3 separate regions of the Homo sapiens genome follow, and regions 1 and 2 are each linked to region 3. Evidence: fine-mapped expression QTL. A gene starts in region 3. Each other region holds a variant in brackets. All regions are shown on one strand. Distances are between the middles of the regions.

Region 1 (4,202 bases), 80 kb before region 3:
AGCTCTGTCTCCTGTGTTCACGCCATTCTCCTGCCTCAGCCTCCTGAGTAGCTGGGACTACAGGCACCTGCCACCACGCCTGGCTAATTTTTTGTATTTTTAGTAGAGACGGGGTTTCACCGTGTTAGCCAGGATGGTCTCAATCTCCTGACCTCGTGATCTGCCCGCCTCGGCCTCCCAAAGTGCTGGGATTACAGGCGTGAACCACGGCACCCAGGCGAGATGAATGAATCTCTAGGGAATTATGCTTTGGGCGGGAACCGGGGAGGGGAAGCCAATCTCAAAAATGTTACATACTATCTGATTAAATTTTTTTGTTTTGTTTTGTTTTGATTTGATTTGTTTTGAGATGGAGTCTCGCTGTGTCTCCCAGGCTGGAGTATAGTGGTGCAATCTTGGCTCACTGCAACCTCCACCTCCTGGGTTCAAGCAATTCTCCTGCCTCAGCCTCCCAAATAGCCGAGATTGCAGGAGCCCACCACCACGCCCGGCTAATTTTTGTATTTCTAGTAGGGATTGAGTTTTACCATGTTGGCCTGGTGGATCTCAAACTCCTGACCTCAAGTGACCCACTCGCCTCAGCCATGATCAGTATTTTGAATGTGGGCGTGAATATGCAAACCTACATAGGAAGCAAATTGTATACAATTTACTACACACGCGCGCGCGCGCGCACACACACACACACACACACACACGAGTACAAGTAAAATGGAGAAAATCCACCTAAGATTGCGCTGGGCGTGGTGGCTCATTCCTGTAATCCTAGCACTTTGGGAGGCTGAGGCGGGCAGATCACTTGAGGCCAGGAGTTTGAAACCAGCCTGGCCAACATGGGAAAACCCTGTCTCTACTAAAAACACAGAAATTAGCAAGTCTTGGCGGCGGGCACCTGTGGTCCCAGTTTTACTCGGGAGGCTGAGACAGGAGAATCTCTCCAGCCTGGGAGGCGGAGGTTGCAGTGACTGAGATTATGCCACTCCGCTCCTGCCTGGGTGACTGAGTGAAAGTCCATCAAAAAATAAATAAATATATAAACCTGGGAGTGGCATCCACAAGACAGTGGCAGAACAGGTTTTCCAACCCTGAACTGGAGCTACTGGAAGTGTCCCAAGGCAAGCCAAGCCGGGGTTTCCCAAACATCACCTGCAGATGTGCTCTCAGTCTGAGAAGAGTGAGTCTGGGCCTCAGCAGGTCTGCTTCTCTCAGAAAAAGCATTTTGCTGTTCTGGGCTTATCCAGCTATTACTTTTCCCTGGGGCTGCACACAAATTCTTCTAGTGACTTTGTAAACATTTAATTAGGTAGGTAGTTAGTTACTTTTTGAGGCAAGGTCTCACTTGGTCACACCCAGGCTGGAGTGCAGTAGCACAATCATGGTTCACTGTAGCATCAACCTCCAGAGCTCAAGCCATCCTCTCGCCTCAGCCTCCTGAGTAGCTGGGGCTACTGGTGCGCACCTCCACACCTGGTTAATTTTTTTTATTTTTTGTAGAGATGAAGTTTCACCATGTTGCCCAGGCTGGTCTTGATCTCCTGAGCTCAAGCAATCCTCTCACCTCAGCCTCCCAAAGTGCTGGGATTAAAGGTATGAGCCACCATGCTAGGCAATTTTGTAAACTTGAAATGCACTTCTCTGAAAACAGAAGACAGCAACAGCCTCTTAAAAATCGTAAGTGTAGGCCGGGTGCAGTGGCTCA[C/T]GCCTCTAGTCCCAGCACTTTGGGAGGCCAAGGCACACAGATCACAAGATCAGGAGTGTGAGACCAGCCTGGCCAATATGGTGAAACCCCGCCTCTACTAAAAAAAAAATACAAAAATTAGCCAGATGTGGTGGCACACACCTGTAGTCTAGCTATTCTGGAGGCTGAGGAAAGAGGATCGCTTGAACCTGGGAAGTAGAGGTTGCAGTGAGCCGAGGTCGTGCCATTGCACTCCAGCCTGGGCGACAAAATGGGACTCCATCTCAAAAAAAAAAAAAAAAAAATCGGCCAGGCGCGCGGTGGCTCAAGTGTGTAATCCCAGCACTTTGGGAAGCCAAGGCGGGTGGCTCACGTGAGGTCGGGAGCTTGAGACCAGCCTGACCAACATGAAGAAACCCCGTCTTTACTAAAAATAAATAAATTAGCTGGGCATGGTGGCAGATGCCTGTAATCCCAGCTACTCAGGAGGCTGAGGCAGGAGAATTGCTTGAACCCAGGAGGCAGAGGTTGCAGTGAGCCTAGATTGCGCCATTGCACTCCAGCCTAGGCAACAAGAGCTAAACTCCATCTCAATTAAAAAAGAAAAAGGCTAGCCGGGCGCAGTGGTTCACGCCTGTAATGCCAGAACTTTGGGAGGCAGAGGCGGGCGGATCACGAGGTCAGGAGATCGAGACCATCCTGGCTAACACAGTGAAACCCCGTCTCTACTAAAAATACAAAAAATTAGCCAGGCATGGTGGCGGGCGCCTGTAGTCTCAGCTACTGGGGAGGCTGAAGCAGGAGAATGGCCTGAACCCGGGAGGCGGAGCTTGCAGTGAGCCAAGATTGTGCCACTGCACTCCAGCCTGGGCGACAGAAAGAGACTCCGTCTCAAAAAAAAAAAAAGAAAAGGCTGGGCACGGTGGCTCATGCTTGTAATCCCAGCACTTTGGGAGGCCGAGGCAGATGGATCACAAGGTCAAGAGATCGAGACTATTCTGGCCAACATGCTGAAACTCCATCTCTACTAAAAATACAAAAATTAGCTGGGTGTGGTGGCTTGGGCCTGTAGTTCCAGCTATTTGGGAGGCTGAGGCAGAGGCGGAGGCTGAGCTTGCAGTGAGCCAAGATCGCGCCACTGCACTCCAGCCTGGCGACAGAGCGAGACTCCGTCTCAAAAAAAAAATCATAAGTGACAACTTTAGGAAGCCTACGGGGGCAGATGACTTGAGGCAAGGAGTTTGAGACCAGCCTGGCCAAAATGGTGAAAACCCATCTCTACTAGAAATTCAAAAATTAGCCAGATGTGGTTATAGCTACTTGGGAGGCTGAGGCATGAGAATTGCTTGAACCCAGGAGGCAGAAACTGCAGTGAGCTGAGATCGTGCCACTGCACTCCAGCCTGGGCAACAGAGCGAGACTCTGTCTCAAAAAAAAAAAAAAAAATTCAGAAGTGGCAGCCACCTCACACCATTAGGAGAGCTACTGTTAAAAATAAAATAAGGCTAGGCATGGTGGCTCATATCTGTAATCTCAGCACTTTGGGAGGCCCGGGTGGGGGGATCACTTGAGCCCAGGAGTTCAAGACCAGCCTGGGCAACAGAGGAAGACCTTTTTTCAACTAAAAATAAAAAATTGGTCTGGCCACGATGGCTCACCCCTGTAATCCCAGCACTTTGGTAGGCCGAGGTGAGCAGATCACTTGAGGCTAGGCTGGCCAACATAGTAAAACCCCATCTCTACCAAAAATACCCAAAAGAACCTGTCTCTACCAAAAATACTCCATCACTACCAAAAAAAAAAAAAATCAAAAATTAGCCAGGTGTGGTGGTACATGCCTGTAGTCCCAGCTACTCGGGAAGCTGAGGCACCAGAATCACTTGAACATGGGTGGCAGAGGTTGCAGCAAGCCAAGGTTGTGCCACTGCACTCCAGCCTGGACAATGGAGTGTGACCCTGTCTCAAAGAAAAGGGAAATTTTATGTAATGTGTATTTTACCACAATTTTTTTCTCTTTTTTTTTTTTTTTTTTTTTGGCACAGGTTCTCACTCTGTTGCCCAAGCTGGAATGTCATGGTGTGATCATGGCTCACTGAAGCCTCAACCTCCCAGGGGTCAGGTGATCCTCCTACTTCAGCCTCCCACTACAGGTTGGTGCCAGCACACCCAGCTAATTTTTGAACTTTTTTTTTTAGAGATACATCTTGCTATGTTGCCCAGGCTGGTCTCAAACACCTGGGCTCAAGTGGTCCTCCTGCCTTGGCCTCCCAAAGTGCTAGGATTACAGACATGAGCCACCGTACCCAGCCTTTTTTTTTTTTTTTTTCCTGAGATGGAGTCTCACTCTGTCGCCCAGGATGGAGTGCAGTGGCGCGATCTTGGCTCACTGCAAGCTCTGCCTCCCGGGTTCACGCCATTCTCCTGCCTCAGCCTCCTGAGTACCTGGGACTAGAGGCGCCCACCACACACCCGGGTAATCTTTTTGTATTTTTTTTTTTTAGTAGAGACGGGGTTTCACCATATT
Region 2 (4,166 bases), 62 kb before region 3:
GTGCCTTGGCTCTATCCTATCAGACATTGGGCCCTCCCTACATGGTGGCCCTGCACCACTAGGCAGGGTGCATCAGCCCCTCCACAACCACTTAGGAAGGTCACAGCATGGATTCGGAGCCATAATCTTCCCTGCACAGCCGCACCACAGACTGTGAATGCCTACTCTGTACCAAGTGCTTTAGTGGGCTTTTAAATTTTTCTGACAAGCCCACACTTAGAGATAAGGAGCCCAAAGCATGGAGAAGTGACTTCACTCACAAAGCAAGGAAGTGTAAAAGCTGAGTTCCAAATCCTGGCTTTAAAGCCCACTTATGCCTCCTGTCCTCTGCCTTACACCAGAGCATGGGCTGAAGTACAGTGAGACCTCTGGGAAAAGCTGACCCTCTGCCCAAAGCCAAGACACAAAGCCTTCAGGCTGCCCAAGCTCCACAATTCCTACCAACAGCGCCGACCACTGCCCTCAGCTTCAAGCTCCCAGCAGCTTCAGATGATCTTCCTGGAACACACCCTGGCGAGAAGTCAAAAGTGGCATTTAATAACTGACTCAAGCAATGATGGTGTGGACCCTTTCCAATACTTCTGATCAATGAGAAACAAGTGTCTTTGATGACACCTTAAAACCCTTCCCTGAAGTTGGCTAATGTCTAACAGAGGGCAGATTTGGGGACAGAGATTTTTGGCAGGTAATGGTGTAGAGATAGCATTTAGTTAGTATCATCTCGACGTCTTTTGTTTCCTTTCATTTTTGGGGGTTAGAGGGGAGATAGTGTCTCACTCTGTGGCCCAGGATGGAGTGCAGCGGCATGACCAAGCTCATTGCAGCCTCAAACTCCTGGGCTCAAGGGATCCTCTCACCTCAGCCTCACAAGTAGCTGGGACCACAGGCACACACCGTCTCACTTGGCTATTTTTTTTTTAATTATTATTTATTTATTTATTGGGACGGAGTTTTGCTCTTGTTGCCCAGGCTGGAGTGCAATGGCATGATCTCGGCTCACTCCCGAGTAGCTGGGATTACAGGTGCTTGCCACCATGCCCGGTTAATTTTTTGTATTTTTAATAGACACGGGGTTTTACCATGTTGCCCATGCTGGTCTTGAACTCCTAACTTCAGGTGACCCACTCGTCTTGGCCTCCCAAAGTGCTGGGATTACAGATGTGAGCCACCACACCTGGCCTATTTTTATTTTTAGTAGAGACGAGGTGTTGCTATGTTATCCAGGCTGTGTCTTTTGGTTTTATTGCATTTCTTTTTTATATATGTATTTCTTTTTTTCTTTTTTCTTTTTTTTTTTTTTTGAGAGGGAGTTTTGCTGTTGTTGCCCAGGCTGGAGTGCAATGGCACGATCTCAGCTCATCACAACCTCCCGGGTTCAAGCGATTCTCCTGCCTCAGCCTCCTCAGTGGCTGGAATTACAGGCATGTGCCACCACGCCTGGCTAATTTCGTACTTTTAGTAGAGATGGGGTTTCTCCATGTTGGTCAGGCTGGTCTCGAACTCCCAACCTCAGATGATCTGCCCACCTCGGCCTCCCAAAGTGTTGGGATTATAGGCGTGAGCCACTGCACCCAGCCTATATATGTCTGGTTTTTTTTTTTGTTTTTTTTTTTTCTGAGACAAGTCTCACTCTGTCGCCCAAGCTGGAGTGCAGTGGCTCGATCTCCGCTCACTGCAAGCTCCGCCTCCCGGGTTCACGCCATTCTCCTGCCTCAGCCTCCCGAGTAGCTGGGACTACAGGCACCTGCCACCACGCCCGGCTAATTTTTTAAATATTTTTAGTAGAGACGGGGTTTCACTGTGTTAGCCAGGATGGTCTCGATCTTCTGACCTTGTGATCTGCCCGCCTC[G/A]GCCTCCCAAAGTGCTGGGATTACAGGCGTGAGCCACCACGCCCGGCTTTATATATGTATTTCTATATCCAATTTTTATTTATGGCAACTGATAGCAGTATTTAACTATTTCTGACAAGAATTATTAGGATCAAAGTCCACAAGTTTGAGGATTAAGTCACAGAGCTGGGAGTTACAGTTCGAATCTTGGTCCTGCCACAGCCTTGGAAAAATAAATTTTCTGAACCTCAGCTTTTCCTCTGTAAAAGTGAGATGCTGACTTAAACCAACACCTGTTCAACCCACTGATTATGAATGCAAGGGTCAAATGCCAAAATTTGAAAGTAGCAAACACACAAAAACAAGTATCACAAACAAAGATAGTTGTTTTACCACCTGGTTTTATTAACTTGCCACAGGCCCCTGAGGTAGCATCACTCCCTTAATACTTCAGTTTTATGTTATTTATTTTTTCTCTTTTTTTTTTTTTGTGTGACGGAGTCTCACTCTGTTGCCCAGACTGGAACGCAGTGGCGTGATCTCGGCTCACTGCAACCTCCACCTCCCGGGTTCAAGTGATTCTCCTGCCTCAGTCTCCCAAGTAGCTGGGATTACAGGCGTGCGCCACCACGCCCAGCTAATTTTTGTTAGACGGGGTTTCACCATGTTGGCCAGGATGGTCTTGAGCTCTTGACCTTGTGATCCACCCACCTCAGCCTCCCAAAGTGCTGGGATCACATGCGTGAGCCACCGCATCCAGCCTTATTAATTTTTTGAGACGGGGCTTGCTCTGTCACCTAGGCTGGAGTGCAGTGATGCAGTCTTGGCTCACTGCAGCCTCAACCTCCCAAGCTCAAGCAATTCTTCCACCTCAGCCTCCTGAATAGTTGGTAGTACAGGTGTGTACCATACCCGATTAATTTTTGTGTATTTTGTAATTTTGTGTATTTTGTAGAGACAGGATTTCACCATGTCGCCTAGGCTGGTCTCGAACTCCTGGACTCAAGCGATCCTCCCACCTTGGCCTCCCAAAGTGTTGTAGTTACAGGTGTGAGCCACTGCGCCGGCCATAAATTACACTTAAAAAAAATAAAAAGTATTGAGGCCGGGTGTGGTGGCTCACGCCTATTATCCCAGCACTTTGGGAGGCCAAGGCAGGTGGATCACAAAGAGTTCAAGACCAGCCTGGCCAAGATAGTGAAATCCCGTCTCTACTAAAAATACAACAATTAGCCGGACGCAGTGCCAGATGCCTGTAATCCCAGCTACTTGGGAGGCTGAGGCAGGAGAATCGCTTGAACCCAGGTGGCAGAGGCTGCAGTGAGCCGAGATCATGCCACTGTACTCCAGCCTAGGCAATAGAGTGAAACTCTGTCTCAAAAAAAAAAAAAAAAAAAAAAAAATATTGGCCGGGCGCAGTGGCTCACACCTATAATCCCAGCACTTTGGGAGGCCGAGGTGGGAGGATCACTTGAGGTCAGGAGTTTGAGACCAGCTTGGCCAACATGGTGAAACCCCATCTCTACTAAAAATACAAAAACTAGCTGGGCATCATGGCATATGCCTGTAATCCCAGCTACCCAGGAGGCTGAGGCAAGAGAATCACTTGAACCTGGGAGGCAGAGGTTGCAGTGAGCCGAAATCGTGCCACTGCACTCCAGCCTGGGTGTCAGAGTGAGACTCTGTCTCAACAACAACAACAACAACAAAAATACAATTTACCATAACCTAGCTAAGTACCAGCTGTGTACACTAACTTACTTCTTTTCATAGAATTCTGTTTCAGGGTTACTGAAGTACAACATAACCAGAATCTATGATTCCATATAGATTTCCAGACCAGAAAATGCTTTATCCTTCCAAGCCACCTCCAGTAACTTACAATGCTCATCTGGTAAACAGGTTGTTTTACAAAAAACTTCCCTGTAACATCCCAATAGTCATGACACTGTCAATTGCCTGGTTTTGTATTTTTAATAGGGAACGAGGGCCGGGCACGGTGGCTCACGTCTGCAATCCCAGCACTTTGGGAGGCTGAGGCAGGCGGATCACCTGAGGTCAGGAGTTTGAGGCCAGCCTGACCAACATGATGAAATCTCATCTCTACTAAAAAATACAAAAATTAGCCGGGCGTGGTGGCATGCGCCTGTAATCCCAGCTACTTGGGAGGCTGAGACAGGAGAAACGCTTGAACCCAGGAGGCGGTGGTTGGGGCGAGTGCCACTGCACTCCAGCCTGGGCAACAAGAGCGAAACTCTGTCTCAAAAAAAAACTTAAAAAAATCAAAACAAAAATGTTACTTATTTATTTATTTTTTTGAGCTGGAGTCTCACTATG
Region 3 (4,202 bases):
TCTCTAATAATAAAAAATGTTTCAGTTACCAATTACCTCTCAAAGAGAAGTGCTGTCTTAATAACAAGTAATACTTTCAAGAGTATCAACAAAACAAAAACAAAAACACAAATACAAACACAAAATGTTACTCCAGGAATAAGATGGTAGGAACATCTCACTATGTTGCCAATACATCTATAAGACTAAAATTGTTCTGGCCGGGCGGGGTGGCTCATGCCTGTAATCCCAGCACTTTGGGAGGCCAAGGCGGGTGGATCACGAGGTCAGGAGATCAAGACCATCCTGGCTAACATGGTGAAACCCCGTCTCTACTAAAAACACAAAAAATTAGCCGGGCATGGCGGCAGGCGCCTGTAGTCCCAGCTACTCGGGAGGCTGAGGCAGGAGAATGGCGTGAACCCAGGTGGCAGAGCTTGCAGTGAGCCGAGATTGAGCCACTGCACTTCAGCCTGGGGGACCGAGCAAGACTCTGTCTCAAAAAAAAAAAAAAAAAAAAAAAAAAAAAAAAACTAAACTAAAATTGTTCTAAAAAAAATTTTTTTTTTGAGATGGAGTCTCACTCTGTCTCCCCGGCTGGAGTGCAATGGCACGATCTCAGCTCATTGCAACCTCTGCCTCCCAGGTTCAAGTGATTCTCCTGCCTCTGCCTCCCGAGTAGCTGGGACAGGCACATGTCACCACACCCCGCTGTTTTGTATTTTTAGTAGAGACGGGGTTTCACCATGTTGGCCAGGCTGGTCTCGAACTCCTGACCTCAAGTGATCCTCCCAAAGTGCTTAGCCTCCCAAAGTGCTGAGCTACCCCGCCTGGTCCTAAAAAAATTTTTTAAAGGTTTACTTAAAAATGATAGCCAACTCTCCTGGAACTCCTTTGAGGATAAGCCCTGGGACCCTAGTTTTGGAAACGCTGCCCCGCTTTGTTCTGTTCAGGACAAAGTTGGCTACCAATGCTTGCCCAGTGAATAGGTTTTGCTTATGATCTGGGGTTCTGTTGAGCTGAGTGTCTGCCTTGAACTCTGAAACCCCCGCTGAAATACCCTCCTTCCCCTCTCATCTGGTCCAAGAAGACCCAGGCTCTGCACCAGCAAAAAGAGACGGCACCCTCGGACAGCAGACACAACTCCTTTAGTCCACGTTTTCAAAGTCGAGGTGCAGGGAAAACCCAGTGTGAACGGACTGCTCCTCGGGCTTTCCTTTAATCGGGCCGTTTCCAAAGTGGCAAAAAATTCACACAGGACCCAAGCTAGCTAGAGGCCTCCTGAGGGGTTCCCCAGGGCATCAGTGCAAGAAGCCCTGAAAGACAAAGCCAAATGACACAGAGTAGCAAAATGTGAACAAGGAATCAAAGAGAAGAGATAAGAAGGAGTAACAAGAAGAAGAATGAACTACAAAGACTGGGAGCGGGGGTGGGGGGTGCTGGCAAACGCATTTGTGATTTTCTTTTCCCCCCAGTGAAATGTCAGTTTTGAAAGCAGCTTCGGAAAATGTAACCAGCTTCTCACATCCCCCAAAAGAAGATGGGAGGAGGCTGTTAGCTCTTACTTCGAAGCCCGGCATCAGGAAGGGGCCCGTCCCGTCCACGTTTCCACGAGGAGCTCACCCTGCGGCTCCCACCGTCCCCGCATGGGCCCTCTCCCCAGATCCTGAAGTTTCCCATTCGGGGGTCCTGAACGCCACACCTCGCACAGCGGTGGAACTCGGTACTCGCGGGCGCCCCAGACCAGCAAACACTTTCCAACCGTCCTGAGCTATCCAGGGGGTCCCCAGAGGGATCCCGGGCCGCCCACGCCCCACCCTCCTCCCTGCAGAGGCGGCCACGCCCGCCCCCGAGACGCCCACCTCTCCCGCACCCCGGACCTCCCTCCCCCACGCTTAAGCCCACCACGCCTGGCGTCCTCCAAATTCCCCTTCCACTCAGAGCCCCCCACTTCCTGCTCACCCACCCCTCCCAAATCTCAGGCCCTTCACTCCCCATTTCGCGCTCCCTTGCTCACTCTGGGCACCTTGCCCCTCCGGCCACCACGCACGCCCTCTTTTCTCTGTCTGTCCCCTGGCACCGGCCCTCCACGGTCGCTCCCTGCAGGCCACCGGCTCAGTCCCGGGGACCCCACGCCAGGCCCCCGCGCTCAGGGCCCCTCCCCGCCGGCCCCCGCCCCGGGCCGGCCTCGTGAGCAGCCCCGGCCCTGCGCCTGCCCCGGGGCCCCGTACTCACGGCTGTAGAGGGCGATGCCCGCCGAGTCCGGGCCGGCGCGCACCTCGAGGCGCAGCGCCTGCTGCTCCGCGTGCCGCTGGATCTCGCCGTTCGCGTCGCCGATGGTGAGGAGGCGGGCGCCGGGGAACACCGACACGGTAGCGCAGGGCCCCGCGCCGCCCGGGACCGCCGACCCCGCGCCGCCCGCGCCCGGCCCCACCGCCGCCGCCGCCGCTGCCATCTTAGATCCGGCTCCAGGCCCCGCCGCCGCCGCCGCTGCGCCCGGGCCCAGGCCGCCGCCGCTGCCGCCGCCGCCGCCGCCGCCGCCGCCGCCGCCGCCGCCGCCGCCGCCGCTGCCGCTACCGCCGCCGCAGCCGCCGTGCAGGCCGAGGCCGAGCCGGGCAGCGCCGCCTGCCGGCCACGCGCCGCCTCGCCGCCGCCGCCGCCACCGTCGCCGCGGCCCGGCCCCGTGGCGCAGCGCCCTCTGCCGGCCGTCCTGGGCGCGGGGAGCTAGCGAGCGAACGAGAGGGCACCCCGTGGGGCGGGACCGGCTACGCCCCGCCCCGCGAGAACGGTCGCCGCTTTGTGAGGTGGCTCCACCGCCCGGGAACTGCGGGGCGGGAGGGTACGTCGGGGGCGGTGCTCGGGCGCGCGGGCACGCCCCTCGGAGGCCTGGGCCCCGCCCCCAGGCCGGCGCCTCATTAACGGCTGCTTTCGAGTGAGGCGGTGCGGGGACGGCGGGGGCGGTGCTCGGCCGCGTGGACACGCCCTGTACCCCGCCCCACACAAGCAGCCGCGCGTCGTGATGCGGCTTCCCTGCCCCGACCTGGACACGCCCCTGAGACTGGGCCCCACCCCCCCGGGCCCGCCCGGCTTTGTGAGGCAGCCCTCAGGGAGGCGTGGCCCAGCCGCGACGAGGCCCCGCCCCCGTGCCTGCCCGCGCCCTCCCACCCGGACTCGCTTTGTCAGCCGCCCCGCTCTGGGGAATGGGCGGGGGAAAGGGCGTGGCCAGCGCCCGGGCCTCGCCCCCAACCCTTCCCCCCACCGCCCCCGCACCGACGATTTCCGATGAGCCCTGGCCTCCAGGAGCAACCTGAGCCCGGTTGAAAGGACCCCTCCCCGACATTCGACCGCTCCTCCTCCCTTCCCCATCATCTCTGCCCACATTGCCTTCTTAATCCTTAATGTTTGACTGTCTCCTTTCGCACAAGATATCCTTTGACCCCCTCCTCTCTCAGCCCCTCCTCCAACGATGCTGAGTCCAGCCTGGCCCGGCGCAGGGCCCCTCTCCCGCCACACAAACCCGTCTTCTCTCTGCATCCCCCTTCATTTTGGGTGGCCCCATCTCTTTTGGGCGACCCAGTGAGCTTGGGCCACTTCCTAGCACTCCAGCTTTAACTCTTCCCTAGACCTCATTTACGCCTCATTCCTTTTTTTTTTTTTTTTTTTTCTTTGAGACGGAGTCTCGCTCTGTCTCCCAGGCTGGAGTGCAATGGCTCGATCTCAGCTCACCGCAACCTCCGCCTCCCGGGTTCAAGTGATTCTCCTGCCTCAGCCTCCCGAGTAGCTGGGACTACAGGCATGCTCTACCACGCCCAGCTAATTTTTTATTTTTAGTAGAGACGAGGTTTCACCATGTTGGTCAGGCTGGTCTTGAACTCCTGACTTCAGGTGATCCGCCCGCCTCGGCATCCCAAAGTGCTGGGCCTACAGGCATGAGCCACCGCGCCCGGCCCCTTTTGTTTTTTGAGACAGGGTCTCACTGTGTTGCCCAGGCTAGAGTGCAGTGGTGCCATCATAGCTTACTGCAGCCTCAACCTCCTGGGCTCAAGCAACCCCCTGCCTCGGCCTCCCAAAGTGCTGGGATTATAGGTGTGAGCCACTGCGAGGGGCCCTCATTCTCCTTCATGTCCCTCACCCGTAGCCCCTGTCATTCCACCTCCTAAACCCTCTAATGCAAGTACCGTTGCAGAGACCCTGGCATGGCACTGCTGCACTCCCCACACCCC

Evidence for each region.
Region 1: its variant is fine-mapped to the expression of CARM1 in whole blood (INTERVAL, PIP above 0.99).
Region 2: its variant is fine-mapped to the expression of CARM1 in whole blood (INTERVAL, PIP 0.94).

The regions. Positions count from the first base shown.
Region 1 is chr19:10,949,868-10,954,069 of GRCh38, reverse strand. No RefSeq gene overlaps it. Among named protein-coding and RNA genes, the nearest start is that of SMARCA4, 9.1 kb to the left of the region's middle. The variant C/T (reference allele first, on the strand shown) is at 1,700.
Region 2 is chr19:10,931,580-10,935,745 of GRCh38, reverse strand. No RefSeq gene overlaps it. Among named protein-coding and RNA genes, the nearest start is that of TIMM29, 4.9 kb to the right of the region's middle. The variant G/A (reference allele first, on the strand shown) is at 1,851.
Region 3 is chr19:10,869,935-10,874,136 of GRCh38, reverse strand. It overlaps CARM1 (coactivator associated arginine methyltransferase 1), which reads right to left and starts at 2,584. Exons shown (of 16, transcript NM_199141.2): 1 at 2,215-2,584. The coding sequence starts at 2,434. RefSeq lists enhancers at 375-494, 1,135-1,314 and silencers at 2,055-2,264, 2,355-2,404, 2,535-3,324.